Regions from separate parts of the Homo sapiens genome. Here region 2 is linked to region 1. Evidence: fine-mapped expression QTL. A gene starts in region 1. The other region holds a variant in brackets. All regions are shown on one strand. Distances are between the middles of the regions.

Region 1 (16,721 bases):
TAAGGAAGCATTTAGAGGCAAAACTGCTTATGCTACTATACAGTAAATAATTAGTATAATTTCCTTTAAAAACTTAAGTTGAAGTCAGTTATCATAGAAAGAGATATTTTAAGTTTACATGGCTTCAGTGTTTCATTGTAGAGAAGGGTCAAACTATTGTGGAAAAATCACAGGTTGATTTTTGCAACCTTGTAAGACTAGGCAAAAAAGTAGCAAAAAAACAAAAACAAAAACCAGCAATGTAGACAAGTAACAAGGTAATTCAATTGGAGAATAATATTCTTAATTGTAGAAAGTCTTCCTAACAATTTTCACTTACAGCACTCAGCCAACTGCACATGCTGACAACAGATAACTAAAATGGAACTGTTAGTCCGGTTTCCTGATACATTCCAGATAAAGTTCTCCCTGGCCTCATCTTTAGGCTGACTTCAGGTCTCTCTCTCAAGGAACAGTTTTGAAGAATGGCACCAATATAGTTGTACAGATTCAGTATAATGGTCTTTAAAAAAAAGTTTTTCACCTTTTAATATTATTGATCAAAATAATAATTTCAGATCCAGCAGAAACTTTTTAATAAAAACATAAATCTAGGCACAGACCTTATACCTTTTACAAAAAAAAAACTAAAAAATGGATCATAAACCTATATGCAAAACACAAAGCTGTAAAAGTTCTGGAAGACAGGAGAAAATCTACATGACCCTGGGTATGGCAATGACTTTTTAGCTACAACACGAAAAGCATGATACATGAAAGCTGGACTTCACTAAAATTAAAAATTTCTGCTTTGCAAAAGACACTATTAAAGAATGAACAGACAAGCCACAGACTTGGAGAAAATATTTACAAAATGCAGGTCTGATATAGGACTTGTGTGTCCAAAATATACAAAGCACTCTTAAAACTCAATAGTAAGCTGAGCGTGGAGGTGCATGCCTGTAGTTCTAGCTACTTCGGAGGCTGAGGCAGGACTGCTTGAGCCAAGGGGTTTGAGGTTACAGTGATCTATGAAAGCAACACTGCACTCCAACCTGGGTGACCTAGGGAGACCCTGCCTCTAAAAAACAAAAACACTCAACAGTAATAATAATTTAAAAATGGACAAAAGATCTGAAAAGACACCTCACCAAACATGATACACAGGCAGCAAATAGGCGTATGAAAAGATGCTCAACATATGTCATTGGGGAATCACCAATTAAAACAATAATGAGATACCATTACATACCTATTAGAACAGCTAAAGTCCAAAACACTGATACCACCAAATCCTGGCAAAGGTGGGGCGCAACAGGAACTCTCATTCATTGGTGGGAAATAGAAAATGGTACTGCTGCTTTGAAAAACAGCTGTATGGCTGGGCGCGGTGGCTCACGCCTATAATCCCAGCACTTTGGGAGGCCGAGGCGGGCGGATCACGAGATCAGGAGATCGAGACCATCTTGGCTAACACGGTGAAACCCCGTCTCTACTAAAAATACAAAACATTAGCCGGGCGCGGTGGCGGGCGCCTGTAATCCCAGCTACTCAGGAGGCTGAGGCAGGAGAATGGCGTGAACCCGGCAGCGGAGTTTGCAGTGAGCCGAGATGGCGCCACTGCAGTCCAGCCTGTGCGAAAGAGTGAGACTCCGTCTCAAAAAAAAAAAAAAAGAAAAAAGAAAAAGAAAAACAGCTGTGAGTTTCTTACAAAGCTAAACATAGGGTTACCTGAGATCCAGCAATCATATTCCTAGATGAGTTAAAAATTTTTTGCCCAGAAAAAGCCTGCACATAAATTTTTAGGACACTTTATTCATAATTGATAAAAACTGGAAGCAACTAAGATGTCCTTCAAAAGGTGAATAAGCAAACTGTGATATATCCATACAATGGATTATTTTTCAGTGATAAAAACAAATGAGCTCCCAAGCCATACATATAAAGACATAAAATAACTATAAATGCACATTGCTAAGTAAAGGAGCCAGTCTAAAAGGCAACATACTGCATGATTCCATGGTCCATGACCAAAGTTAGCAAAACCTCTCAATATCTGTTCCCTAATTAATTACTCTTCTAAAATGTAACTGTGAAAATTTACTGATCTAAAGAAGTTCTTCTAAATTCCATAACATCTATTGATATGTTGCAGCAAAAAAGGCAGACTGTTTTGTTTTGTTTTTTTCCTAAGACAGAGTCATACTCTGTCGCCCAGACTGGAGTGCAGTGGTGCGATCTTGGCTCACTGCAACCTCTGCCTCCCAGGCTCAGGCGATTCTCCTGCCTCAGCCTCCTGAGTAGTTGGGACTAGAGGCGTGTGCCATGATGCCTGGCTAATTTTTGTACTTTTAGTAGAGATGGACTTTCACCATGTTGGCCAGGATGGTCTCGAACTTCTGACCTCAGGTGATCCACCTGCCTCAGCCTCCCAAAGTGCTGGGATTACAGGTGTGAGCCACCATGCCCAGCCAAAAAGCAGACATTATGAATATAAGAACTCTGAATTAAACAATGTGAAACTGTATCACATTAAATAAAATTTTATGTGACCAGTAATTACATTTCCTAGGCTACAGATTCTGTAAACTTTCTTTCTTTCTTCTTTTTTTTTTTTTTTTTTTTGAGACAATCTCACTCTGTCACTCAGGCTAGAGTGCAATGGAACGATCTCAGCTCACTGCAACCTCTGCCTCCTGGGTTCAAGCGATTCTCCTGCCTCAGCCTCCCAAGTAGCTGGAATTACAGGCGCCCACCACCACGCCTGGCTAATTTTTGTATTTTCAGTAGAGACGGGGTTTCACCATCTTGGCCGAGCTGGTCTCAAACTCCTGACCTCAAGTGATCGGCCCACCTCAGCCTCCCAAAGTGCTAGGATTATAGGCATAAGCCACTGTGCCCGGCTTTGTTTTTTTTAGGACGAACTTTCTAAAATGTTTTTATTATAATGTACCCTCGTCCATCCATTAATTACTTTGTGTTTTTGTAAATGATAGATAAATATGCCATACCTTTGAAAGTTCTGTGGCATTATATCATTCTTCCATTCATTCATTCCTTTATTCTTGCGTCACACATTTATTAAGTTTGTACTAGGTACCAGGCACTGTACTCAGAGGTAGAGATAAGATGATCAACAAAAACAAGCACAGTAGTTCCTCTTGTGTGCTTAAGCTCTACTGAAATAAACACACTTTAATCAAATCATGGCACAACTGCAAAACTAATTGGTAACATAAGAGCAACTCAAGGTTTACGGTGCAATAGGTCTATTTACAAGAAGAGTATTTAATTAGATCAGGGACACCTCTGAGAAAATGATTATTTGAGCAAAGACCTGCAAGAAGAGGAGTTAAAGACAGGCTAGAACAATCTGGACAAAGAACACAGTAAAAGAGTGCTGCATCCATACTCGCTGTCTCCCATACTCTACTAAATAAAAGTACCCATTGTTGGGCACGGTGGCTCACGCCTGTAATCCCAGCACTTTGGGAGGCCGAGGCGGGTGGATCACGAGGTCAGGAGATCGAGACCATCCTGCCCAACATGGTGAAACCCTGTCTCTACTAAAAATACAAAAATTAGCCGGGCATGGTGGCGGGTGTCTGTAGTCCCAGCTACTCAGGAGGCTGAGGCAGGAGAATCACTTGAACCTGGGAGGCGGAGCTTGCAATAAGCCGAGATAGCGCCACTGCACTCCAGCCTGGGCAACAAGAGCAAAAACTCCTTCTCAAAAATAAATAAATAAATAAAAATAAATAAATAAATAAAAGTACCCATCTGGCTTTTGTACCCTTTACTCCACCAAAAGTTTCTTATCAAGATCCCAATGACCTCCATGTTGCTAAATGTACTGGTCAATTATGAATCCTCATCTCATTTGACCTACAGCAACATTTAACATAACTTATTTTTCCTTCCTCCTTAATTACTTTCTTCATTTTGCTTCTAGAACACCTACTGAACAGTGGGTTTTTCTCTGCTCACTGGCTGCTCCTTCAGTCACCTTTGCAGAGAACTCCAAATCCACCCAAACTCCATAGAATATCACTTTTGGTGATATCAACAACTCCTATCAAAACACTACTATAAAATCCAAAATTATATCTATTGCCAGATCTTTCTCCTCACTTCTGGACTCATTTATTCAACTGCCTCCTCCACCTCCACATCTCAATGTGAATTTCTTAGAGGCATCTCAAACTTAACGTGGCCAAGCTAAAATACCAACCTTTCCTCTCTCTCCCATTCACAAATCTGCAGATTTTCCCATAATAGTAAATGGCACTTCCTCCATTCTAGTTACTCAGGTTAGAAACTTTGAAGCCATTTTTGACTCTTACTCTCACACAATCTGTCAGCAAAGTCTGTTGGCTATACTATCAAAATGTATCCAGATTCTGTCACCTGGATTATTACTTTAGTTTCCTAACCAGTCTCTCTGCTTCCACCCTTGCTTCCCTATGGTCTATGCTCAACACAATTTAAAAGAAATATTCACTTCAGGCCAGTTGCAGTGGGTTATGCCTCTAATCTCAGCACTTTGGGAGGCTGAGGCAGGAGGATCACTTGAGGCAATCACTTGAGGAGTTCAAGACCAGCCTGGGCAACACAGTGAGATCCTGTCTCTACAAAAAGACAAAAATTATCTCAGTTATGTAATTTCAGTTAAAAAAAAAAAGGAAAAAATACAAAATTAGCTGGGCTTGTTGGCACGTGCCTGTAGTCCCAACTACCTGGGAGACTGAGGTGGGAGGATTACTTGAGCCCAGGAGTTCAAGGATGCAGTGAGCTATGACTATACTCCAGCCTGGGTGACATAGTCAGATTCTGTCTCAGGAAAAAAGAAAGAGGCCGGGCACGGTGGCTCACACCTGTAATCCAGCACTTTGCAAGGCTGAGGTGGGTGGATCACTTGAGGTTAGGAATTCAAGACCAGCCTGACCAACATGGTGAAACCCTGTCTCTACTAAAAACACAAAATTAGCCAGGTATGGTGGTGCATGCCTGTAATCCCAGCTACTTGGGAGGCCGAGGACGAAGAATCACTTAAACTTGGGAGGTGGAGGTTGCAGTGAGCCAAGATTGTGCTATTGCACTCCAGCCTGGGCAACAAGAGCAAAACTCCGTTGAGACAGAGGGAGAGAGAGAGAGAGAGAAAGAGAGAGAGAGAAAAGTAGTCATTTTTTAAAAGTCAGATCATGCCCTCATCTGCGCAAAACTCTCCAATGCTTTCCCAACCCAATTAAAAATGTTAGTCCTTTCAGTCACCTACATGTTCTCCTACCATTACTTCCTTTCTCTGTGACCTCATGTTATTCTCCTCTTTGTACTCATTGTGCTCCAGCCACACTAGCCTTCTTGCTATTTCTCAAATGCGCACTCAGGCTTCTGCCCAAGGCCTTTGCACTAATTCTCTTCATTAGAATGTTATTTGCCCAGGCATCTACATGGTTTATTCCCTCCCCTACTTCATATCTCAATTGTCCCCTTCTGGATTATGTCTTTTCTAACAACCTTATTTAAAAGTGAACCTTGCCCCTCACATCCTGGCACTCCCCATTCCCCTTCCCAGTTGTTTTATTCTCCACTGCATTTGTCTTCATTTCATTTACTAAGTGTTTTACATATTTATTTATTATCTCTCCTCAGTAGAATGCAAGCTCTATGACAGTAGGAATTTTTATATATTGTGGTCAATGCTGTATCTTCAATGTCCTGTTATATAAAAGGGACTCAACAGAGATTTGTTGAGTAAACGCGTGGGTGAAATGGAATATGAGAACCAATGACTGAAAAATGGACTGTATGGCTGATCTGGAGGGCAATATATGAAGTTAGTCTGAAAGAGTACCAGATGATGTCAGGCTTTATAAAGGAGTTTTGTCTTTAACAGTAGTAGGACACCACTGAATAGTTTTAACCAAGAGAAAATCTGATCAAATCTGCAGTTTCAAAAAATCATTCTGGCAGATATAATGGAGAACTAATGGAGGAGGGTCATTGTGAATAATTGCTACTGTAGTGGTCTTGAGAGATTATCGCAGTTTGAAGACAGGTGGAGAGAAAAATATATTTGAAGGATATTTTGAGAGATAAGGTTGGCAGAACTTCATAATAATTTGGCCATAGAAGTATGAAGGGCAAGAAGAAATAAAGAATAATGTTTAGCTTTCAAATTTTCACAAGTAGATGGATAGTAGTGTCCTTTGCTGAAATAAGGAACACTGAAAAAGAATTAGATTCATAAGAGATAACTATGCATTTGGTTTTAGGTATGTTGAGTTTGAGATGCTTTTGAGATATCCAAGAAGAAATATCCAAGAGATATTGTGAAAGCTGAGAGGTGAAGCTGAATGGAGCTATTCATTTGAGAGTCATAGGTGTTGGTGAAGCCATGGGTATACATGAGATCATATTTAACTACGGCATAAAAAGGCACCCAGCCTTAAGAAACTACCCGACCCTTTATGGGCTGGATAGAGAATGAAGATCCCAAAAAGGAGATGAAAACGGAATGGTTTTTGTTTTGCTTTTTCAATCACACTCATAAGTTATTCCCTTTTTAAAATTCAGATTCAAACTAGAAGTGTCAGAATGTAACAAGGCTTTTGAAATTAGACCAATTCATCAGAACTATGCATCTATTCAAAAATAGCTCACTTACAGAAACGATGTAAAGAATTCACAATACCTGTCTCTTTGTAGCTTCTAAGTGCATCAATACACAAAAAGCACCCTTCCCGTCCCACCCCACACCGCCAAGTATGCATGATTTGGCTTACTGACGTTTCCTGAAAGTACCCTATCTCTCACTCTGGGCCTTAGCATATGCTGTTCTTTTGGTCTTCATTTCCCCTGGGATGAAGATTTCCCTGACTTTCCAAGATTGGGCTAAGTCATCTCCTTCTAGACATCCCAGTGATATCATGTATTATTGTAACCGTATGTCTAACAACTAGTTCCTCTAACTAGTAAGACTGTCTTTTTCATTGTTGTATACTCAGTGCCTAGCAAGACGAAATTTTTAGAATTTAGTGCAATGCAATTCTGCAATGTAAAGAATTAAAATCTACACCGATTATCAGTCCACTGATGGCCGTTCAAACCTCGACTTTTCTCAAATAATAACTTTTTAAAAGCAAACTAATTTTAAGCAAATGACTGAATCTTTTGAAAAAGTCGACTAAGTTTTGGAGACTTTTACGGTTTTGCTTTCTTTTTCCTGCTGTATCCTTAAAGCCTGCAAGAATTCCTATCTAGGAATACTGGGGATTCTTTTACGAGATGGATTTGACAACTTGCTTTCAAAGCCCTGCCTAGGATTTCATTTGACTGAGCAAATAAAGCCCAGAACATCCCTAAGCAAAGGCAAACAAAGGTGCAAATGCGCGGAGATCCCAAATCCACCCCGCGTGTGTCCACAAAAAAGGGCGGAATCAGAGGCAGCAGCGCGAAGCTCCAGTTTCCACAGCATCCTTCCTTCTTGGCCTTACTTAGGCCGCTCCCTGCGACCCTTGGGATCAGGATCCCAAATCCTTGCCTCACCCACCACACCCCGCGCTTGGGCAGCTGGACTAGTCCTTCCCACGCAAGTCACTGGAAAAAGTCCTTGGACTAAGGGAGGCCACCCTAGATGGCTTTGTCTCCAAAATCCCAGAGGAAATGGAGGAAGGAAAAACCCTGTCAAGGAAAGGTGACAACCCAGCTTACAGTGCTTACCAAGCAGACGCTCTCAGTCAGCCCCTGCCACCGCTAACCGTTGGTTCGCGGGCACCCACAGGCAACGTCGCGGTGGCCCCTGGGGGTTGTAGTTTCTGTCGCAAACAAAACGCGCCGGCAGCATCGAAACTACATTCCCCACAAGTCAACGCGAAGACGTCCTACCGACTTAAATCTGGGGTTTGGAGTAATGAAGAGGCCGTCACTACTTTTAGGGTGATCTTAAATGTAGACTCAATTTCTTCCAGGAGTCCCTTCGCGCCCTCTTTCTTTGTCGTGCTTGTTTTATGTGTGACGAAGTCTCAGTGTACTTCTACGTCTTACTTTTTCCTTCCCCTTCTCCAGGACAGAGTCCAAACGTCCGGGAACGGAAACCGCCTCAGGGCGCAAGCTTAGCGCCTCCGGGGGCGCTTGGCCCAGTTCGCAGTCACGCATGCGTAGCAGCCGGCAGTGGCTGGCAGCCGCGCGCGGCGCACTTGGGGTCCGGAGGGTAGCCTGCCAGAGGGCGGGGCTTTTTCCTAAGGCTTTGCCTCGGCGGGTCGCGTCTGCCTGGGCGGGGAAGAAGGCGCTGGGGCCGGGGCGGCTCCCGGTTTGTGCCGGGCGGAGAAAGGGGAGGGGCTGGGGGTGAGGACCCCGTCTCCACTCCCTGCTCCCGCCCTCTGGGCTGATCCCCACCGATGGGGCTGGGCGAAGGGCGGGCTTTGCGCCTCGGGCCCCGCCGCCCCGCCAGCTCCGCGGCCCAGCCTGGCGCTCGAGGATTGCCAGGGCCGCCCTGTGCCCTCTGGCTCGGCGGTGGTGGGCGAGGGCTCAGGGATCGGAGAAGTAGCGTCTTCCCGGGGGTGCCGAATTGGCGGGGCTGGGGGACGCTTTTTTTCACCGCCGCCCGCCGAGACTACGGCTGCCCGAGACTGCCGCCCTCCGACAGCGCCCAAGCCTCCGGCCGCTGCGGCCAGTGGGCCAGGGTTCGGCGAGCCTTCCCTGCCGGCGCCGGCCGGCTGCTGAGGCGCTGGGAGGAGCTGCGGAGGGCGGGGACTGGTGTCGGAGAAGGGGCGGGGTGGGAACGCCGGAGAGAACCCGGTGGCTGCACAGACAAAAAAGCCCCGAATGGCTGGAGGGCGTTCAGCTGTTAACAGCCTTTTGGGGCAGAGCACGGATTTGACAGCTCCACAACGTGAGGATATCCACTGACCCCGCGAGACGGAGGAGAACGCTTCCCCGAAATTCTCTGCCCACCAAAGCCAGCGCTGCAAGGTTGCAACTTTCAAACTTTGTTTTTCCAGAAAGAAGACTGCCCTTTCGTGTACAAGGAGAGGGTGAGAGGGTGACCTAGCTTGTAGATCGGCTGAAGGCACCAGTGGTTCCAAATGTCACCCAGATGTGTGTTTTCATGACGATTTGATTTCTCTGATTTTATTTTTACATTTTTCATTTTAAAAATACAAAGCAATTTTTTTGGGGCATGCTGAAAGGTAACTGAAGACCGCAAAGGAAAAACTATTGTCATGGCTGAAGGAGAGAATGAAGTGAGATGGGATGGACTCTGCAGCAGAGATTCAACTACTAGGGAGACAGCATTGGAAAACATTAGGCAAACCATTTTGAGGAAAACCGAGTATCTTCGTTCGGTGAAAGAAACACCTCATCGTCCATCAGACGGGCTTTCAAATACCGAGTCTTCGGATGGGTTGAATAAGCTACTTGCTCATCTGCTTATGCTTTCTAAGAGGTGTCCCTTCAAAGATGTGAGAGAGAAAAGTGAGTTTATTCTGAAGAGCATCCAGGTAAGGAAGAGCATTTTAAATACAACTATGTCTCTACTACAGTTAAATTTTACTTGCCGTTATTCACGTTGTGTTTGTTTCTATTAGGTTGTTATGTAAACTTTTATTATGAGTTTACATCTTTAGAGTGTTCTGTAAGTAAACAAGTAGTGTTTTTCTAGAGTTTTAGGCAGAAACTGCTTTGCTCCTGGAAGAATATATGAAAACTACAGTTAATTCCAAGTAAATACTTGTTTTTCCTTATATTTCTTTTTACATGTTGTTGGAAAATGTAGCCAGTGTTTTTTTTTCACATTGTCACAGTGTTCTGAGTGTAAAGGCTCACATTTAAAAGCCTCTAAAATGATAAAGGATATTAAATGTTTCCTAGTCAGCCTGTTCAAGATAATTGGTGGAACAATTTTCTCTTATTTTTAAAAACAAAACAAACCAGGATGTGTTCTCTAAATGCAACCTCTCTTTTTTCAAGAAGAGAATTATATAAAATAATAAAAACCTATCTTAAAAGAAGCTAATATCTTCATGTTGAAAAGGTGGACCCAGGTGGGGTATTTGATAGAAACACTTTTATGGCAAATTGCTCAACTAGCTTTCTCTGTGTTTGCCTGAATTGTTTCTTTTTCACATGTGTAGCTATTTAAGATACGAGTGCAGCAGGTTAAAAATATTATAGTTTTTCCTCCATTTCGTTCATAATTTATCCTGTTTTATTACAAGGTGTCTTAGAATACTTTTTTTTAAGTTTTTAGATATTGACAATATTCAGCAACACCTTATATATGCTTGTCAATCTTTACATTTCTCAATCCACGTGTGTTGTCCAAAGTCCTGTATGAGAGATTTTTAAAATTTAAAATGTACTTGGGTAACTATGTAAGTTAAAAGTGACAGTTTTTATATACTGGCTTGAATTTAGTTTAAAGCAACAGAAAAATAATATCCACAAAATGAAGACTCTATTTAAGATCTTGGGATATTTCTTCTCACTAACACTTTGGAAACAATTGTTACAATTCAGAGTTACCCGAGAGGAATTAATATACTAGGTAACTGAAGTTTACCCTTTGAAACACAAAAAGTTATTTCTCTATCTTCTAGACTGTAGTGACTGTAACAACCATTTTTGTCCATAATGGGGTCATCATTATGCATATCAACTATTGTTGTGCAGCAAAGGGTGGAGGACTGACTATATGATCCATTAGTTTTTGTATTTTTGTGTGTAATTTTTATAGTTTTTCTGTTCTTTCCTTTGCCGTCAGGATACTTGACTTTGGTCTCTTCCTGATCTTTCATTTTGCTGCTTAATTCATATTAGAATGGGAAACCAGATAACCAATCGTGTTAAGAGTTATATTGAAAATAAAAGTAAGCAGGCTCTGGGGAGCATAGTATCAAAGGATTTCAATATAATGATAAATAAGTGGGTACTGGAGTCAGAGTTGGGCTCAAATTCCACTCCTTTACTAATGTCCTTGCCTGTAACCTTGGGCAAATTCCTTGACCTTTCTTAGCTTGGATTTCCACATCTGTAAAATGGGAATAACAACACAGAGCTCTTGTGGGAATTAAATCAGATGTAAAGTACTCTGGTATATATAGTAGATGCTCCTCTCCCTTTCATAAGTGAAATACATAGACTATGCAATATATATTTCAAGACTCTTTCATCCTGCAAAAGGACTCAGGAATTTCCTGGGAAGGTTCCCTATAGACTTATACTCTTTTTTTCCATCTCTGCATCTATTGTACAATTATAAAAGGCAATTTACTTATATTGTGTTATAAGCACATGCTTTTGTGTCTGTCTCCCATAGGAAGGCTATGAGTTCTTAAGAGTACTGGCTGGGACCTGGAAGCTACTAAATAAATATCCAGTGGATGAACAAATTTATACTTTCTTTCTGTTTTTCATCAGTAGTCTGAATAGATGAAGTTTTCAGTTTAGGGAGTTTCCACCCCAGCATCATTCATTTATGCTTGCAGTTATGCAACAAATGTTTATTGAACTCCTGCTGAATGTCATTCTGAGAACTGAGGACCAGTGGTAACAATTTTGACATCATACCAAAGGGAAACAGACCATAAAGAAGTAAACAAATATAAAATTTAATTTTAGATAGTAAGGGAAAGCTTTCCTGAGGCAATGACATTTAAGCAGAGACATGATAAATGAATAAATATTACCCATGTAAAGGTGAGATTTGTGAGGGGACATTCCGGACATAGGGAACGGTATGTATGAAGGCCTCATGCCAAGGAGAGCAGATGAGTTCTAGGAGCTGAAAGTAATGCAATATGGCTGGGGCAGACAGTTTGAGGGTGGCGTGAATAGCTTAAGAGGACATACTCTGGAGTTTGGCAGACCTGGCTGCGATACTGTCATGTGTCACTTAATGATGGTGATACACTCTGAGAAATGCATCGTTAGGTGGTATCATATTTGTTTGAACATCATAGGGTGAAATCACACAAACCTAGATACTACACACCTAGGCTATGTGTTATATAGCCTGTTGTTTCTAGGCTACAAACCCGTACAGCGTGTCACTGTACTGAATACGCTTTGGCAATTGTAATGCAATGGTAAGTATTTGTGTATCTAAACATAGAAAAGGTAGAGTAATAATATAGAATTACAATTGACCCTTGAACAGCATAGGTTTGAACTGCATGAGTCCACTTATAGGAAGATTATTTTTTCAATAGAAGTTATACTAAGTTGGGCGGGGTGGCTCACACCTGTAATCCCAGCACTTTGGAAGGCTGAGGTGGAAAGATCTCCTGAGGTCAGGAGTTGGAGACCAGCCTGAACAACATAGCAAGACCCATCTCTACAAAAAGTCAAGAAAAAAAAATTAGCTGGGTGCAGTGGAGCACACCTGTAGTACCAGCTATTCAGGAGGCTAAGGCAGGAGGATCGCTTGAGCCCAAGAGTTCGAGGTTGCAGTGAGCTGTGATTGTCTCATTGTCCTCCAGCCCTCTGGCGACAGAGCAAAACCCTGTTTCAAACAAACAAACAAACAAAAGTTACACTTGAGTATGCCTGCCTCTTCTGCCTCTCCTTCCGCCTATTCCACCTCTATCACCCCTGAGATAGCAAGACCAACCCCTCCTCTTGATCCTCCTCCTCAGTGTACTCAAAGTGAAGACCGTAAGAATGAAGATCTTCATGATTATCCACGTCCACTTAATGAATGGTAAATATATGATCTCTTCATTATGATTTTCTTAATAACATTTTCTTTTCTCTAGCTTATTTTATTGTAAGAATACAGTATATAATATGTATAACATACAAAATATGTGTTAATTGACTGTTTATATTATCAGTAAGGTTTCCAGTCAACAGTAGGCTATTGTTGGCTAAGTTTGGAGGGAGTCACAAGTTAAACACAGATTTTCAACTGTGTGGAGGGTTGGCCCCCTAACCCCCTTGTTGTTCAAGGGTCAAGTGTGTAATCTTATGAGGCCACTGTTGCATATGGGGGTCCATCATCAGCTGAAATGTTACGCAGTATGGGACTGTACTTTATTAACTCTACAACTTTGAATAAGTTACATAATCTCTCCTTGATTCAGTTTCCTCATCTGCAAAATGAGCATTATGCTTATGGTTCCTGCCTCACAATGTTGCTGTGAGAATAAAATAAATGATGTTTGCAAAGCATAGCACAGTGCCTAGCATAAAAGAAATGCTCAGTTAATGTTAGGTATGCCTGCTATTACTAGGCAGAAACCAGATCCCAGAGGGGCTTATAGGCTATTTAAGGGTTGTGGACTTTATCATAGAAATAATGGAAGCCACTGGGGGATTTTGAGCAAGGTAGTATAGTGATTGATAGTGTGTCAGAAGGATCACTCTAGAGAATGGATTTCCATGGTCAAAAGTGGATGTGTGACATCAATTAGGAGGTTGTCCTACTAGCCTATGACAAAAGTGATAGTGGACTAGGATGTGAGGTAGGGCAGGAGGGAGTGGAAAAAATTAAAATGGGTCTGATAGATATCAAGGAGTTAGAAACCACAGGATATAGTATTTAGTTGGATTTAGAAGATGAGGAAAATAACAAAATTAAGCATGGCTCTAAAGTTTTTGGCTTGAGGTACTTGGTGAATTGTGCAATTGTTTTCTGAGACAAAAGAGTGGCAGGGGGTCAATTTAGGGGAAAAATGACTGCTGTTTTAGACATGTTGAGTTTAAGTTGCCTATGAGACATCCAAGTAGAAATAGCTCCTAAATGAATTTCTGCCCCCGATACCGCTGTTCTAGTTCTGTCACTGCTATGTCTTCTTCTCCAGATTAAACTCACCCTCCACTTTTATATCTATCCTCCACATAGCTGTAGAGCCATTTATCTAAAATGAAAATCTATGTAACTTTACTGGCAAAAGCCCTTTAGAATAGAATTGAATTTAAACTTCTTAATGTCATATAGTACCCAGCATTATCTGGCTTTCACTTACCTCTCCAGCTTCACTGCCTACCATTTTAGCATCAGCCTCACATGAGAAAGCAAATATTAATTCAAATGTAGCACTCCATAATGCTTTCTGTTATTCATTAGTAAAGCAGCAAAAGCTGTGGTGCATATGCAATTTCTGCAGCTGCTCCTGAAAGCCCTTAATTGCTATAGGTCAGCTAAAAGGGCTGTAGTTGGCAAGGGAGAAACGATGACAAGGTGGTAGAATGAATTCAATTCCAAGCAGCTAAATCTGTTAAAAAAAAAAAAAATGGACACATTGGGAGATAGCATCTTTTGTTTATACCCCAGTTCTCAATTTATTGATTCCACATCAGCATGTTTAAATATATTCACATTTTTGAGAAATATTCTGGGCCAGGCAGTCACTGTACTTAGGACTTGAAGATCAGTAAGACTTGTTTCCTGCTTTTGAAGAAGGTTTTCTATTCTCATCCAAGGCTTTATACTGGGTTTTTAAAGAAACTTTAAAAAGAAGAATTACACCTTTTGATACTCTTGATTCTCTAAACAAAGGAATGGGAGTATTAATACTGGCCCACTTTCCTAATATAGTCTACTGGTGAACTATAGTCTTGATGATACATGTAATTAAGGAGGAAAATATGAGAGCACATATGTATCAAAAGATTTTGAGGCCTATCCAGAATAGCCAAGTACTTTTCCAAGAATGGTCATTTGGTCATTTTCATAAGTTTGCCAGCAATCAATATTGTCTGAAAGTAAATTGGCTTAAGATAGAAAATTTAGAATAAGCAACAAAATACTTATCTTTGGTAAGTGGGGTGGTGGAGGCTTTCATTTAGTAAAGTGATTATTACCCCCCCACCTCCAGGAGAAATGAAACTTTCGTTGCTGGGTAGGATGCACATTTATAGCTGTTAGAGTTACAGTTGGAGTTGCAGTATCTAGTTGCTATCCAATTGAGTAATAAATAGATTGAAAATGTAACAATAAGTTTATTATTTCACATAATAAGTCTGGAGGTTGGCAGTTCCAAGCTTGATTGATTCATTGGCTCAACTACATTACTTGTCTGCTTTCTTTTTTTTGTTCTCCTTCCTCAGCATAGCAAATGATGTCTCCATTCCTACAGCATGCTATTCCAGGCACCATGTGCAGACATGACTATCTGCAGCTAAGAAGAAAAGAGTTTCTTCCCACGTCTCTCTCTCGGGGAAGAAAACCTTTCCCAGAAACCCTCTAGCAGACTTCCTCTCAGTTTCTATTGACTGGGATTGGGTCACATGCCCTTTTCTAAGCCAGTCATTGATGAAGAAATTGGGCATTTCTATTTTTGGTTTGGACTAATCAGCATTCAGCCCCTAAGGACCAGGAGACCCGCCCCCTGCCCCCCCATCACTTGAACAGAAAATTTCTCGATGAGGAGAAGCAGTACAGAAGGCAGTCAGGCCTAATTAGAGGCTTCCATTAAAACTGCATGTGTATCTAACTAGATAATATATCACTTGGTCTATTTATAATTTGGATCCGATTAGATTAGAAGCATACTTAATTCATTTTTAGTGGGGCTATAAAATATAACAGATTGGAGACATTCTAGAAGCAGATTTGGTCTTTTTAAATGATTGTTTTGTTTTGATTTTTTTTTAACTGCCATTTAGTGGAGCCAAAAGTCTAAGGTAGTGCATGTCAAACATTCACTGCTGACTCTTAGATATCACAGCAAATATGAGAGTCCTCTTTCAATATTTACACTAAGCTTCTCTCTTCCATACCACTATTTTCTGGCCTTTCTTATTTTATTGATACGTTGTGAACTCGGTCCCTTTCCCTCAGAAAGCCTTGTGGCTTACTTCTCATTGCCTCCTCTCATTCGTGTCTTTGACCACTTTCCTTCCTTGCTTTTGAGGCTCAGAGAATATTCTTTATTCTCAGGTTTTCTGTCCTTCTTTGGATAAAGAATGTGAAGAAACTGAAGGCAAATCTTTAACTTTTTTTTTCTAAATTGTTTGAAGACAGCCAATTTTTTTTCACTTTCTGACTTACAGGAGGAATCATATCTGTACTATCTATACTCAGTGTCTTCTTTATAATATATAAATACATCCTGTCCTATGTTTTGACTCTTCAGAAAGATCAAAATTAACAACAGTACTCTTTATGTGTTCAGATTTCGTCTATTTTATTTTATTTATTTTTGTTTATTTATTTATTTTGAGATGCTGTCTTGCTCTGTCGCCCAGGCTGTAGTGCAGTGGCACGATCTTGGCTCACTGCAACCTCTGCCTCCCGGGTCAAGCAATTCTCCTGCCTCAGCCTCCTGAGTAGCTGGGATTACAGGTGGGCGCCACCACGCCCAGCTAATTTTTCTATTTTTAGTGGAGACAGGGTTTCACCATGTTGGCCAGGCTGGTCTTGAACTCCTGACCTTGTGATCCACCCATCTCGGCCTCCCAAAGTGCTGGGATTACGGGCATGAGCCACAGTGCCCGGCCTGATTTCATCTATTTTATTCCTGTTGGAGTGCCCCCATTGGCCTCTAACATGAAAAAAACTGATTCATTTAAAAAATATTTTTCTAACATAGTTATTTTGTTTACAAATGGGATATAGTATTTTGTACAAAGATGTTAAACACTTGCATAGTAAATTTTACTTTAAGATCATGGGTTGTTCATGACATCATGAAGGATCCTCTAAAACAATGGCTTAATTAGAATTTTTTCTCATTTTCAACACTTTGTGTCCTTAAAGGTGCTGTATGTGCAGACCATTCATGAAGTAAAAGAAT
Region 2 (16,721 bases), 83 kb before region 1:
TGTGTACATCAACCTGCAAAAAGAGATTTACTCATACGTTCATCAAGCATTGTTCATTCAACATACATTCATTCATTTATTCATTCAGCAAGAATTTATGAAACACTTAACCACTGCAAAGTCTTGGGTTTGTGGAGTAAAACAAGGGAAAGGATGCAAAAAAAACGGGGGGGGGGGGGCGGAAATGTTTAAGACACACAGTTCTTCTCCAAGCCTCAATAGATTTTTCAATCTAGTGGAATGAGAATGTTAAAGTGATTATCAGGAGTGGATATTTCCATGTTCCTTGGACTCTAGAACCTAGCACAGCACCTGGAAAACAGAAGGTGCTCAAGAAGTATTTGTTAGGTGCAGTGTTGGGTGATTTGGGGGAGTAGACAAATAAGGCTATCCAGGATTTCCCATCACTCGATTCTAAGAGACATCAGAAAGCCTTTCTTATCCCAGTGTACACTGGGGAGTCACTTGCCTGACATTCTGACATTTAAATCATAATAATATCAACACTCCATCTTTGCATTGTGTTTTCTAGTCTTAAAAATACTTTAACATGCATTATTTCATTATCCTCACAACCTTATGTAGGTAGGCAAGGTACTAACCTCATTTTTCAAATAAAGAAACCAAAATTGAGAGAAATTATGACTTGCATGGTTCCATGATCTTTCCATCTCATCACACAATCTGATTTGCTTCAGACACCTAATGGTTTTAAATACTAATTAAAAAACATATGAAATGCTGGTTCTTCAGAATTGTCTTTGGAATGAAGTACTAATTCACCTGCTTACTGCATCTTCTGACCTCTCCAAACCTCTCACCATCCACATTGTGTTTTCTCAATGATTCAACCTAACAGGGTTCTTATATTGCTCCTTTTGATCAGTTGTGGCAGTATCAGAAACAGGGATATGAAGGTCCTGGGTCCATGAGACTTGCCATTAGGGGCTGATCTGTGTCTCTTGTTTCTCTACAATAACTTGATTGCTGTTGTTGGCAGCACTTACCTATAGAAGAGCTCCTAATGAAACAGGCTGGCTGGCTTCCTGTTGTGATCTGCTCTAGAGGAGAACAGAAGCCCCTACTCAAGCCCTAGCTTACCTAACTCTCAGCAAATCAGTAACAAAAGACCCAAGGAGTTATTAACAGCAAGTTCCTACTTTGGGGGGATAGAGACTTCCACAAAGCCCCACAGGTGCAGTTAGAACTAAAACTCAACCTATAGTTACCCCTTCCTCATTTTTGTGCTAAGAATAATGCCTTGGGTGGAGATTTAAAATGCTAATGCTACATTTGATGTATGAAGAAGCATGTTGAGCCACTGTATGAGCACTAGAAACCACACCCCCCGCACCCCGCCATATGTGCCCTGATGTAACCCTTCTCTATCAAAGGATGCTATAAAACTAACGCACACACTACCCTTGGAGAGCATCTCTTTCCTTTTCCTTTCTTGGTGCTGGCTCCCTTGTGCACAACCTGAATACACTTACCTTTGCTGCTGCTCTGTTTGGTGATCTCTCTTGATTTCTATCCTGGGAGACAGCAAGAATCCAGAGTGCTGATAACACTCACAGAACATTGTTTTGCATAATGTATTACTAAGTGCCTACCATTATTTCAGCTTTTAAATTTCTCACCAACATCAAAGTCAAATTCAATTAAAATATTATTGGGTAAAATGAGATCTCCTTTCATTGAGTATGATTTGTATTATAGCTCCTGTAACTTCAAGACAATAGCATTAATTAACATGTAAAAACACTTACATTTTCCTTGGTAAGACTTTTGCTTGGATCTGTCTTAACAAATCTAGAATATAGAAAAATCTTAGAGGTAGCAATCAGGTTAGAAATGGGTACCTGAAACTGCTATTATATACTATTTATCTGAACTGGAGATAATGCCAATTGTCTATGTAAAAAGAAGAGAGGGTGCTGATGTAGATTACGGAGTGAGAGTGGGGAGTAAAGCCCCTGAAGATCACACCTTCTCAGTGCCACTATTTACCTGTAAACTCGATTAGCTGTTCCCTGAAGAGCTCCCTGCTCTTCTATCTCAGACTTCAGTTCAGTCAGTTGCACAGCCAGTTTTTTCTCCAACAGCTGGACCCTTTCTGTGGAAGTGATCTTATAAATTTCATCCATGATTTGTATTTGCTGTTTTTCTGTATCCCTGAAAAAGAGGATCACAAATCTTGATGCCCTCAGTGACCATTATCCAGCATGTTGAACTTTGTCTATCTTTGTCCAAGAAATCATGTCAACTTTGTAGAAATGCATGCATTTTGCTATTAGACTGTTGTCATTTGTGATTTAATTAACATCTAGTAAACAGTAGAGAAAAAGTAGGTTAGAATCTCCACTGGCCATGCCTTTGATTAGCCCAGTTCACCTTCAAAAACATCTCTGCTTCAGCTTTGGCTGTGGGGTTTAATAAGTGAGAATGCACCCCCCACCACCCCTCACCTCTGCAGTCTTGATAAATGTTTGTGGGGATTACACAGTAACTTCTGTGAATGGCAGTTATTGCTGACTTCTAATAGAAAATTGTACTTCCGCATTTGAATGTGTTTTCTTAATTTTGACTGCCTACATTTAGCATACCGGTTTTACCATTAAATAACAGCTGATAACCTCCCACCCCACCTCACCTGGTTCACAGTCTGTCAAATTCAACATAATTGTTTGTTAAGTACTTAGTATCAACATTCTAATTAACAATGTAGATTAACTGCATGACTCAGAAGTCCTGGGACCCATAAGTTGCAGGGGATTCAACAGATGATGTATTTCCTTGTGTTACTGCTGCCCTCACCTGTCCTGGACAAGTATGAGTTAAGTCTCTCTTAGGCCACATTAGAGAGATTTAAAATACTTAAACCTTATTTTTTTCCTGTGATATTTCTAGACTCTCATCTTTCCTTTTGAGATATTTCATTTTCTCAAGTTAATATGCTGTCATTTCAACAAATAATTAAGCTGTAGAGATGTTTTGTGTAGAGGCTTCCTTTGGGAGCCCATTTATTCTTTTTCTAAATATATGAAAAATGGAAATGAGCATCCATGTTCAGTCCAGGTTGTGAACCTGCCTAGTAATAAATCTGTCGTGTTTGGCACGCCATTGGAGCTCAATAAAATGCACTGTTATTGTTCTTAGCAAAAGTAAAATGTTGTTATAGAAAATATTTGCCATTTGGCAGTGTCCTTTCAAGTTGGGCAAACAGTTAAACAGCTGCCTTAACAGCTGCATTCCAATCGGCAGCCAAGAGTGGCAGCAACATAGACTGGCTGATTATTCTCCCAAAGGACGGACATTCTGCCTTCATTTCTTGATCAGTTTCAACACTTCACAGCTCAGAAATGAGAACATTTAATCCTGTACTGTTTAGCTTGCAACACAGTCAAGCACAGTATTCAGAAAATTAACATAAAGGGGTCAGTCTTTGACAACTGTCCATGAAATGAATCCAACCCAGAGAAATACATGCCTGCTGAGCACTCATGTCTAGGTTTAAAGAGACAACTGTTTATTTGGAGGGGTATGGGAGGTGTGCTTCATTTATTGAGAACCTACCGTGTGTCAGGCAAGCACTGGGAACTCATTTAGTCTTAGAAAAGAGATTGCGAGAAAAGAGAATTTCTTCAATCATGTTTTTAAAAATAAGTACATTTAATTATTTGTAATTCATAATTATGTATAATACATAATTTTTATGCATTTAAAACGTGGTTAAAATTTAAGACAAAAATAGTAAGATCAGCTTGAGCAAGGTTTGGGGGTGTTCAATGTGTGGTTACAGCAGGCTTGGATGGGGATAAAGCAGACACGTTTAGAAAAGAAATACTGAGTAACTATTTTAAAAGTTTCAAGGTGATGAGTAAAAGAATAGAAATGCATCTAGATGAGTTCATGTCATTTGTAGGGACATGGATGAAGCTAGAAACCGTCATTCTGAGCAAACTATCGCAAGGACAGAAAACCAAACACTGCATGTTCTCACTCGTAGGTGGGAATTGAACAATGAGAACACTTGGACACAGGGTGGGGAACTTCACACACCAGGGCCTGTCATAGGATGAGGGGAGTGGGGAGGGATAGCATTAGGAGATATACCTAATGTAAATGATGAGCTAATGGGTGCAGCACACCAACATGGCACATGTATACATATGTAACAAACCTGCACGTTGTGCACATGTACCCTAGAACTTAAAGTATAATAAAAAATAGGAAAAAATAAAAATAAAATAAAAATATCCGTACCTATTAAAAAAAAAAAAAGAAATGTATCCTAGAGCTTCCCAAAGAAGTGGGAGTAAGGGGTGAGATAGGACTTTTAAATCCAATAAACGGTGGTCCCCAACCTTTTTGGCAACAGGGATTGGTTTCATGGAAGACAATTTTTCCATGGATGGGAAGCAGCAGGTGGCCAGGCAGAGGGATGGTTTCAGGATGAAACTGCTCCACCTCAGATCATCAAGCATTAGCTAGATTCTCACAAGGAGCACGCAACCTAGATCCCTCACATGAACCATTCACAATAGGGTTCATGCTCCTATGAGACTCCAAATGCTGCTACTGATCTGACCAGAGGAAGCTCAGGTGGTAATGCTTGCTTGCCTGTGCTCACCTCCTGCTGTGTGGCCCAGTTCCTAACAGGCCACTGATGAGTACTGGTCCATGGCCTGGGGACTGGGGACCCCTGCAATAGAAGGTAAGAAAAGTGGTGGTGGGGGGGAACAAAAAGAAGTATGGCAGAATTAAGTTCAAATGTAACAGTAATTATAATAAATGTAAATAGTTAAGCTCATCAAAATACATAAATCAGCACAGCTTCAAGTGTTTTAAAGGCTCCCAAAACTTGATAATGTGATATGTACCAAAATAAAACAATTATTTTTATTCTAGCAAATGCCAGAATTTAAACTGATAAGCATACTGGTCCCATATCACTGTGGGCTAATCCAATTCTCTTTATTGATCTGCACAGATAGATACTCTGTAACCTTGTTGGGTAAACATTTTTGATACGTAGTCATCTTGATCATCAAATGCTTTCAAATCATCTATGCTTTCAAATGAAATACATTACATGCCAGCTTCTGCATTAGTAGGGGTGTGGCTAAGCCATTGTAACAAAAAGACACCATCACCAGTGGCTAAAAGAACAAACTCATGCCTATAATCCCAGCACTTTGGGAGGCTGAGGTGGGTGGATCACTTGAGGCCAGGAGTTCGAGACCAGCCTGGCCAACATGGTGAAACCCCACCTCTACTAAAAATACAAAAACTAGCCAGGCATGGTGGCATACACCTGTGATCCCAGCTACTTAGGAGGCTGAGGCAGAATGGCTTGAACCCAGGAGGCTGAGGTTGCAGTGAGCACCACTCTACTCCAGTTTGGGTGACAGAGTGAGGCTCTGTCTCCAATCAATCAATCAATCAATCAATCAAAGAAAAAAGATCTTTTAAATCTCTCTAACCTAATGGTGCTAATGTAAATGGTCTGGGGTTGTAGAGCAGCCCCACTACTAAATGGGCACTCAACGGCCCGGGTTCCTTCCAAGTCTGCTTCATCATCCCCTAGGCATTGTTCAGATAAACACATTAGTGTTTTCCCTTCATTGTGTCTATAGAACATAGGGGACATGAGATAAATATATTTGATAGTCTGAGTTGAATAACCTGCTTCTACTTCTAGTTTGCTGAGAGGCTTATTTTACTTTTTTCTTGAAAGGGTGAATTATGTCAAATGCTTTTTCTGCATCTATTAATCATGTGATCTCCCTCATCTATTTGTTAATGTGGTTAATTTCACAGATTTTCAAAAGTTAATCCAAAATTGTGTTTTTAGAATAAACTCCATTTGGTCATAATTTGTTATCTTTTTTATAGAAAAATGTATTCAATTTTCTACTATGTTTTTCAGAATGTTTGCATTTATGTTCATGAGAGACATTGGCCTGTCATTTTTCTTATAATGTTTTTGTGAAATTTTGGTATCAACATTATGCTGGCCTCATAAGACATGTTGTGAAGTGTTCTCTATTTTCTGAAGAATGTTTATAATTGCTATATCCTTCCTTAAATACTTGGAATAAATCACCTCTGAAATATAGTAAACTGAAGTTTTCTGTATGGGAGGACTTCAATTACAGATTCAATTTTTTAAACAGATATATAGCTATTCAATTTTCTATTTATTTTTGTGTTCATTTTATTAAGACTTTTAAAAGAACATTTGGATATATAAGCACATTTCATCTAAGTAGATGAATTTTGGGGGGATGTGAGGTTTTTCATAGTATCATACTTTTTAACAGCTTTGTTGAGATATAATTAACACAACATCTGATTAACTCACATGAAATGCACAATCAATGATTTTTATTTAGTATATTCAGAGTTGTGCAATCATTACCACAATCGATTTTAGAACATTTCATTACCCTAAAAAGAAACCCTATTGCCATTACCAGCCACTCCTCATTTTTCTCTAAGCTACCTCTTCTTCCTAACAATAAGCAACCACTAATTGACTTTCTCTCTACAGATTTGTCTCTACAGATTTATATGAACATTTCATATCAACAGAACCATACAATATGTAGTCCTTTGTGACTGGCTTCTTTTACTTAGCATGTTTTCAAGGCTCATCCTTGTTGTAGCATGTATCAGCACTTCATTCATTTTCAATGGCTGAATAATATTCCATTGAACAACTATACTACATTTTATTTGTTCATCAACTGATGGACATCTGGGTTGTTTCAATTTGGGGGCAATTATACATAATATTGCTATGAACATTCATATACAAGGTTTTGTGCACATCTGTTTTCATTTCCCTTGAGTATATGTGTAGGAGTGGAATTACAGGGTAAATATGTTTGACCTTTGAGAAACTGCCAGACTTTTCCAAAGTGGTTGTACCATTTTACATTCCAATCAGCCATGTATGAGAGTTTCAATTTCTCCACAGCCTTGCTAACACTTGTTACTATCTGTCTTTTTAATTTAAGCCATACTAGTTGGTGTGAAGTGGTATCTTATTGTGGTTTTAATTTGCATTTCCCAGTGGCTAATGACGTCAATCATCTTTTCACATGCTTATTGGCCATTTGTATGTCTTCTTTGGAGAAATGTCCATTCAGATCCTTTGCCTATTTTTAATTGGATTATTTGTATTTTATTGATGAGTTGTAAGAGTTCTTATATATTCTAGATACATGTCCCTTATCAGATGTACAATTTGCAAATATTTTCTTCCATTCTGTGGGTCATCCTTTCACTTTCTTGATGTTGTCCTTTTAAACTTCTTATCTTTTTAATATTTATAAAATGTGTAGTGCTGTCTCCTTTTATATTCCTGATATTGGTAATTTCTGTACTTGTCTTTTTTTTTTTTTTTTTTTTTTTTTTTTTGAGATGAAGTCTTGCTCTGTTGCCGAGGCTGGAGTGCAGTGGCACAATCTCAGCTCACTGCAACCTCCGCCCCCCATGTTCAAGTGATTCTTCTGCCTCAGTCTCCTGAGTAGCTGGGATTACAGGCAGGTGCCACTTCACCTGGCTAATTTTTGTATCTTTATTAGAGACAGGGTTTCACCATGTTGGCCAAGCTGGTCTCGAACTCCTGACCTCAGGTGATCCGCCTGCCTTGGCATCCCAAAGTGCTGAGATTACAAGCATGAGCTACCGCGCCCAGCTTGTACTTGCTTTTATCTTGATCAGTCTTATTAGAGATTTATCAATTTTACTAATTTTTTTCAAAGAACCAGTATTACTGAGTTTTCTCTAGGTTATTCATGTCTGCCTTTTCTTTTACTGATTTCTGCTCACCTAACTTAGTAGATCATTGCTTTTACTATCTTGAGTTTAATTTGCTTTTCTTTTTCCAGCTCTTGAGATGGATGTTTAGATAAATAATTTTTAACCTCTCGTGTAATGTATTTAATATTATAAATTTCCCTCTAAGCACTATTCTAGCTACATCACAGAAGTTTTTAATGTTGTGTTTTCACTATATTTTAAATATTTTCTAATTTCTATTATGATTTCTTCTTTGACATAAGAGTTATTTAAAACTGGTTCT[TTCTG/G]TTATGGTTTCTAGTATGATTCCACTGTGGCCTGAGAACATATTCCGTATGACTTCAATTTTTAAAAATATGTCAAGCTTGCTTTATAACCCAACATATGGTTATTTTGGTAAATGTTTCATGTATACTTGAAAAAATGTGTATTCTGATGTTGGGAATAGTGTTTTATATACGCCAATTAGATCATATTGGCTAGTCATGTTGTTCAAATCTTTTATATCCATTGATGTAATCACTGATTTTTTAAAGGATATATGAGCTAGGTATATTAAAATCTTATTACAGTGAATTTACCTATTTCCCCATTTTGTCCTCAACACATTAGTTATATATATATATATATATATATATATATATATATATATTTAATTTTTAATTTTATTTTTTGAGACCGAGTTTTGCTCTTGTTGCCCAGGCTGGAGTGCAGTGGCACGATCTCGGCTCACTGCAACCTCCACCTCCTGGGTTCTAGTGATTCTCCTGCCTCAGCCTCCCGAATAGCTGGGATTACAGGCATGCGCCACCATGCCTGGCTAATTTTTTATTTTTAGTAGAGATGGGGTTTTTCCATGTTGGTCAGGCTGGTCTCAAACTCCTGACCTCAGGTGATCCACCTGCCTCAGCCTCCCAAAGTTCTGGGATTACAGGCATGAGCCACCACACCCGGCCCATTGTAAGGTTTTTATTCTTTGGCTAGTGTTTTTTTTTTTTTAACCGAAGATTTCTACCCTTTTAGAGGTTTTAGTTTAGCTCTTTAACCTCCTGCAGCTTCAAAATCTGGCAAACGTCTAGAGAGGAAAACTGGCCAAGTGTTTTGTGCTGGCTTCCTCTCTCCTGTGGGGTGTTGTCTCCTAAGCTAATCTCAGATTTTACCTGCCTTTCCAACTTCCTTCTTAGGTGTGCCTTCTGAGCCTTTTGATTGATAGATTGACATTTCTCTTTTTCCTCATCTCTGAAATTCTGTCCTTCAAAGGTTCGAACTTAGTTTCCCACCCCATGAAAGTTCAAAATCTGGCAAAAATTTGAGGGAGAGAACTGTCGTATATTTGACGCAGTTCCTCCTTCTAGCAGGGTTTATCTTTTAAGCATGGCAAGACTGCAGATTTTACTTTGCCTTTCTAGACCAGCCCCCCAGACTCCTTCACACCTTGGCATTCAGCAAATATCCAATGGGTATATTTCAGACATTAGATTCAACTCTGCCATTCCTGCAGCCATGGCCTTCAAAAGTCTCCCTGGCTTCTGTTTGTCGCATTTGGGTTCTTATGCCAAAACTGTCACTGTGACTAGAATTGGTAGATTGGCTAAGGAAGCAAATAGCCAGGGACTGTCAACTCACCTAGGAAGGCTCTTTCATTTCTGGAATTTTGGTTCTTCTAGTCTTTGTTGCTTCTATAACCTTCCAATGTCTTTCAACATATGACTGTAACTTAACTGTTTTCATGATGTGGCCTTTACTAAATCTTACCCAAAGTAGCCAGGCACAGTGGCTCATGCCTGTAATCCCAGCACTTTGGTGTAATCTTGGCTCACTGCAACCTCTGCCTCCTGGGTTCAAGCGATTCTTCTGCCTCAGCCTCTTGAGTAGCTAGGATTACAGGCGCACACCACCACGTCCAGCTAATTTTTGTATTTTTAGTAGAGACGGGGTTTCACCATGTTGGTCAGGCTGGTCTTAAACTCCTGACCTCATGTTCCGCCAGCCTCAGCCTCCCAAAGTGCTGGGATTACAGGCATAAGCCACTACGACCGGCCCCAAAGAAACTTTCTTAAACTTTGGCTCCCACCGCTCCATATTATTGTCTCTTTTACCTCAAATAATAATAAACCACCTCATTATCTGTTCATGGAAGCATTTTTTTAAAAAATTACCAAAGATCAAAAGAAGCATGTGTGAAAGCAAAATGTACACACTGCTCTGCTGTTATCAGAGCATTATCAACATGTACATTGTAGTCAGAAAATATCTTGCACCCTGAGAGAAATAAGCAAACAAAAACAGGGTCACTGTCATTCATTTTCCCAAAATAAAATAATCCTTAAGTTTTGTTTATAATTTACTAATTCCTTTAATAAAAGCAATTTTATTGCCAACTTTTGCAATGATAATAGATGAAAATCTGTGATGATCTTTGTGGCTATGACAATCATGTGAGAAAATCGCTGTCTTTTCTACCATGATTGGACAACTACAAACTTGGTAATACTGGTAATTTTGTGGGTTTTCCTTTTTTTTTTTTTGTATTTTTTTATTTGATGAGCCAGTTCTTTTAAAACTTGGGAGTTGCTTGCAAACTTTCCTTGAAAGTAAACTTTCCCCCCTAAATCCTTTGTCTATATTTCTTTGACAATTGTGTAGATTCCTCTAAGATTTTGTGTATGCATCAACCAGGGTAAAGTCCACCACATTGTCCATGAAGAGCAACTCAAGGGCTGTTCGAGGTATACATTTTCCAGTCTTGAGGCAATAAAGTCTTCATCTAGTTGATTCAAGTTCTTTTTCTGGCTCTTCATATGTTTTTTGCTTCCTGGCCAAGTCTGCGTTTGACACTGGTTCTGATTTGTAAACAGCCACTTATTTCTCCTTTGGTGGCAGCAATGTTGAAAATACACATTTTAATGGTCGATCCGTTCTTTGTGAGGCAACAATGACAGGACATCTGATTGTACTTTGTTTTTGTCTTGAGGATTCTGTTATCTTCTGTCATCTAAGATACATCTTTTCTTTGCATCTGGGTCTTAAGACATGAGTTTGGTCAAATTGATAGGTTGCATTAGTAGGTTGGAAAGTTGCTCATATTACTCCCTACATCACTGATTTACTTTCTTTCTCATCTTCTGACCATTGACGAAACTTGTTTTTCATTTTTTTGTGCCACTATGAGTTCAAATCAATTAAGAAAAATATTTTTGTGGCCACTGGAATGCAGAGAAGCCCTTGGAGATCTGGAGCTGCTACCATTAACCAATGACTCACGCTTTTTGTACTTTTATTACATTTGATCCATCTGTGGCTAATGTTATAAACTAAGGCTGGTAGTTCTGTGTATTGCTATTATTTTTTGAGATAGGGTCTTGCTCTGTCTCCCAGGTTGGAGTGCAGTGGCATGATCATGGTTCACACGGCCTCCATCTCTGGGGCTCAAGCAATCCTCCCATCTCAGCCTCCCAAGTAGCTGAAACTACAGGCATGCATCACTATGCCTGGCTAATTTTTAAATTTTTTTTGTAGAGATGAGGTCTCACTATGTTGCCAAAGCTGGTCTCAAACTCCTGAGCTCAAGCCATCCTCCCACCTCAGCCTCCCAAAGGACTTGGATTACAGGCGTGAGCTACCACGCCCAGCCTGCGTATTAATTTTTAAAAACCATCTTTTTTCTCCTCAAAAAGGAAGGCATAGTTCTTTGTAATAGTCCATTTGTAATTACACAGCTTTCTTTCTCCAAAGTCAATGTCCTTTCTCCCTCAGAAATATGCTGGAGATTGAACAGTCAGAAAAAAACATCATTTGAACACACTATTTAGGGATATCTAACTCCAACAGACAAATCTACCATGAAAAAGAACAAAATATACACAGTGAACAAACTTGGAAATTGTTTTTATGTAACTTTAGAGCAAAGGGTAGAAACTTTACAGAAGGTTTTGCTTGGTTTGTGTAACCATTCTACAAATAAGCCTGGATCTGTGATGGGATGGGAATGATTGCTGCCAGCTTGTCTGGAACATTATGACCTCTGCAAGAAATCTGAAAAGTTCTCAGTGCATAACATACTCTCTCCCTTCTCAAAAGAAAAGAGTAAAGTATCCATCTTAGACACTGTAATTTATATCCATTAGGCCCTATCTCCTAACACTGCTTCATTGGAGATGGTTTCCAACACAAGGTTTTTTTTTTTTTTTGAGACCAAGACTCACTCTATGGCTCAGGCTGGAGTGCAATGGCATGATCTCGGCTCACTGCACCCTCTGTCTCCTGGGTTCAAGCGATTCTCCTGCCTCAGCCTGATGAGTAGCTGAGACTACAGGTGCATGCCACCACACCCAGCTAATTTTTTTTTTTTTTTTAGTAGAGACGGGGTTTCACCATGTTGGAGGCTGGTCTCAAACTCCTGACCTCAAGTGATCCACCTTCCTTTGCCTCCCAAAGTGCTGGGATTATAGGCGTGAGCCACTACGTTCAGCCCCAACACATGGCTTTTGAGTGACATATTGAAATCATAGCATGTGACTGATTTCTATTTCTAATGGACACAGAAAAATTCTGCCGGGCACAGTGGCTCATGCCTGTAATCCCAGAGCTTTGGGAGGCTGAGGTGGAAGGATTGCTTGAGCCCAGAGTTTGAGACCAGCCTGGGCAGCAAAGTGAGACCGCGTCTCCTCAAAAAAAAAAATTTTTTTTTTTTTTTAATTAGCCAGGTGTGGTGGCATGCACCTGTAGTCCCAGCTACTTGGGAGGCAGAGGCAGGAGGACTGCTTAAGCCCAAGAGTTTGAGGTTGCAGTGAGCTTTGATTGCATTCACTCCACTCCAGCCTGGGTGACAGAACAAGACCCTGAAAAGAAAAAAAAAAAAAAAAGAAAGGTAGGGGGCGGGCTGAGGGGGAAGGAAAGGAAAGATTCCTTTCTTCTTTATCTCAAACTCTCAATAGGCCACCCTTGAATAAACTGGAAGGAAATAATATTCTTTAAATGGTCTCATGTTCCAACTGACCTTTTAGGATTCAGGAAAAAAATTAATAAAAATTATTAATATAACTTGTAAGTAATACAGTGTCAGGAAAATGCAAAAATAATACTGTAGAAAATGACACAATTAAAAAGTACACAAACAATGGTATACATGGTTAAATATTACACAAAAGTATCCCTTTACTTTTCACAGACATGTGGCTATTTGCATAGGTTCAAAAAAAACATGTTCTCCTTCCTACCAGGCAATAATTAACAAATCACTTTTGTAACCATCACCATGCCACACATCTCATTAAAGTAGATATGGCAAACCCATTATTAAGCAAAGCAGTCCAAGCAACTTGGCTGAGGTAAATTGACCGGTTCTTGGTTCCTGACTTCAGTATAGTATGTGGGCAGTATCTTACACATAAAGAAATGACAACCTCTTGGGCTTGAAAAAGCCTCCAGACAAAGTTAACTCCTATGTTGTAGTAACACATGGCCCTAGTTTTATTAACTAGACTTATAAGAAGGTCTTTGTATACTAAGCGTAACCTTTTATCACACTCACATAATAAAACTAGTCATCAAACTAATGATACTAAATCAGAAAATCACTAAGCAAATTTATGGCCAATTCCATGCTTTAGGAGGAAATTTGGAGGCAAGACTGACACCTTAACCAGAGGCCATGATAGGTAAGCAATGCACATCACTTTTGGGTCAGAAAACAAAAAACAATACCGCAGTAAAGGATCAACATAGCAAGTCTTGATTGTGTAAACTTTTCACATTCCAAAGAAATGTTTGTCCTGTGTCCAGATTCAAGATAACCTCTAAGTCCTTGGACTATCCTGCCTGATATGAATGTTTTAATTTACTTGGGGGCCTTAGGCCATACCAGGTAGTCTAAGCTAACAATGTGATTAATGGTGAAGTCCTTAGGCCATGTAGTATCAGCTCCATCTTTGGAGGGGCTGAAAACTGAAGGTCAGCCACATGGGCTATCAGTCATGCTATGCCTACGTGACCAACCCTCAAGAAAAAATCTGGACACCAAGGCTTGGTGGAGCTTCCCTGGTTAGCAATTCTCCAAGAATGTTGTCACACATTGTTGCTGAGAGAATTATGGTCTGTCTGCTGAGAGAATTATGGTCTGTCTACATGACTTCACAGGTGAAGGACAACTGGAAGCTTGTGCCTGGTGTCCCCCAGACTTTGCCCTATGTGCCTTTTTTCAGCTGCTGATTTTAATATATATTCTTTTGCTATAATATACCATAACCATAACTTAACAGCTTTTCTGAGTTCTGTGAGTCCCTCCAGTGAATCACTGATCCTGAAGGTGGTCTTGGGGACCACCCGAGATAAAACACTGAGGTAAGGTTAACAACAAAAACAGTCACCACACTGTCTAGTTCTCATTTCCCATGTAAATGAAACCTTGAGCCTTTCCTGTAAATTACTAATAACTATATCCCTGGTCTTGGCAATGCTGATATCTAAGGATACATGATGACCTCTGATATGATGATTATCTGAGGAAACTGTTTTCCACCATGAAAAGAATAACTAAACTTGGTGACTTTGGTAATTTTGTAGGTTTTTTCATTTTTTAATTTGATAAGCCTGTCCTCCTAAAGCTTGTACTCCCTTGCAAGACTTCTTTGCATATAAACTCCTAAATGCTTTAATCTTTTAGTGGTTTATGTTTTTTATTTCTGTAGATGGTAGTTTAAACTGATAGTATTTTAGTAGAACGGTTTAAGAGAATCAAACTCTAGGCAGGGCGCGGTGGCTCACACCTGTAATCCCAGCACTTTGGGAGGCTGAGGCGGGCAGTTCACCTAAGGTCAGGAGTTCGAGACCAGCCTGGCTAACACGGTGAAACCCCGTTTCTATTAAAAATGCGAAAAAAAAAAACAGCCGGGTGTGGTGACGCATGCCTGTAATCCCAGCTACTTGGGAGGCTGAGGCAGAAGAATCGCTTGAACCTGGGAGGCGGAGGTTGCAGTGAGCTGAGATCGCGCCATTGCACTCCAGCTTGGGCAACAAGAGCGAAACTCCGTCTCAAAAAAAAAAAAATCAAACTCTACTTTGTGGCATTATTTATGGGAATGCTCTGAGAATGAGAAATCACAGGCAAATATATCATACCCAAACACCAAAGGCACAGCCCTCTTTCGACTTGAGAGCCATTCTGTAAAAGAACAAAGAAAAAAGAACCTGTTTGAAATTTTGGCTTAAGTGTCCACCATTTAAATCATACCTTGAGAGAATCAAGAATGTAATACTGATATAAATTTTTCTAAGCTTATAAAGGAGAAGTTATATACATAAAATAGAATAAGTTTTTTAAAAAATCAATTATTTTTTAGATTAAAGTAAAAGCAGATATCTTTAAAGTAACTTGTTTTTAACTCTGGTACTGACTTTCCCAGCTTTAAATTGGTAGCTTGGTTCATTTCAGGGAAAATGAAGGCAATAATGCTTTTTATGTGTTCAAGCATTTCAACAGTGCTATTCTCTCACATGTATTACATATTTTGGATAAGCTATCTCTGAAAATATTTTGTAAGATATTAAAGATACTTTTGCTAGAAATTGTAAGTTATAAAACCATAAATGTTCCACAGACTTCTCGAGAGCTTTTTAAAATTTAATTTTAAGTGGGTTTCCTGTGCACCAAAATGGTTTATGTTTTAAATAACACATTTGTAAAGTTAAACGGATCTACAGTGATGAAGAGTGAAATACTTTCCAATTCAGCAAGATTCTGGACAATTGCCCTGTAAACATCAATCTTGTATTTCAGGCATGAAATGATTCACATTCTGTACTAGGTTCAGTAACAGGTTTTTCTAAGAAATACCAAAGGTCAATGTACATTTAACTTTAAGGCAAACTAACAACAACAACAACAACAACAAAATGCCTCTCAAGGTTTTTTAGAACCTATCCTAAAATTTACTTAACTACATTAAGCCAAGTCAGGTTGAAAAGTACATTATTTTACATTATTTTAGCTGATTGGAAGGTCTGGCTCACTTTACAATCCTCTGTTCTTAAAGACTAAGATTTCTTTCTTTAATTGTTTAGGTTAACTTTAGTAATTTGTAGTGGTGAATAAACTTCTACAAGTGGGTAGAATCCCATTACAATGGGATTATATTTGGTGGCCTTATTATTGCTCATTACCCTATAACACTTCTTCCTACCTTCTGACCATTGTCCAGAGCAGAGTGGCTTTGCTGATATGGTTATAAGAAATCTATTAAATAGGATATTAAAGGCCAAAGAAATCCTCTCAGGAGTTAGTTTATTTAATGAAGCTATCTTTCAGGTAAGATATTTATCCACTTATTCATTTTAAAATATTCAATCAGGTTGATTGCTGAGTAAGATGACATGTTTTTAAAGAGTACTACATTGGTGGTATTATCAGGTTTTTAATTTTCATGGTGCCACTGACTGTTGATGCTCGGAAAAATAGGGTTTGTCAAATAACAGATCTTTGCTCTCTTCAGATTGGAGACATGCAGATAGTTTTTCTCCGACAAATCTCACATTCTTATTGGTTGTAAAACTGTCTGAAGCACCTACAGAGCAAATTTCTTTCTTAATCATAAGACTCATGCTTGGTTAGATTTTACCAAGAGGTAGCATAATGAGGTCATTTTGTTAAGGGATTCATACTGAATGTATTTATTTGCCCACATTAGAAAACCAGTATTTCTCTAAGGTAAGTTGGCTAGTGTTTGAAAATTGTATTCTATAGACCAGGAAATGCAACAGTATTGATTAAAATGAGACTTGTTATCTGTAAAACACATGAAACAATATTTCTGGGATAAACAATAGATTGGCACATCCATAACAGGGGACTTGGGAGTATTCCTATTTTAAATTGGCTATTCCACTTTTCTCCACACCCTTCAAATTCATTC

Direction of the effects. Positions count from the first base shown, and alleles are read on the strand shown. Sizes are in standard deviations (SD) of each study's normalised expression.
As copies of TTCTG replace G in region 2, the expression in whole blood of the gene that starts at base 7,770 in region 1 goes down (large effect, 1.4 SD a copy in Lepik 2017).

The links.
Region 2: its variant is fine-mapped to the expression of CEP57L1 in whole blood (TOPMed, PIP above 0.99). The same link has a PIP of 0.9 or more in monocytes.

The regions. Positions count from the first base shown.
Region 1 is chr6:109,086,556-109,103,276 of GRCh38, reverse strand. It overlaps CEP57L1 (centrosomal protein 57 like 1), which reads right to left and starts at 7,770. Exons shown (of 11, transcript NM_001271852.3): 1 at 7,702-7,770. It overlaps SESN1 (sestrin 1), which reads left to right and starts at 8,431. Exons shown (of 10, transcript NM_014454.3): 1 at 8,431-9,482. The coding sequence starts at 9,204. RefSeq lists silencers at 1,428-1,819, 8,104-8,803 and enhancers at 7,784-8,043, 8,914-9,063.
Region 2 is chr6:109,169,381-109,186,101 of GRCh38, reverse strand. CEP57L1 (centrosomal protein 57 like 1) reads right to left here. Exons shown (of 11, transcript NM_001271852.3): 11 at 11,684-16,721. It also overlaps the pseudogene CCDC162P. Among named protein-coding and RNA genes, the nearest start is that of CEP57L1, 82 kb to the right of the region's middle. The variant TTCTG/G (reference allele first, on the strand shown) is at 8,096.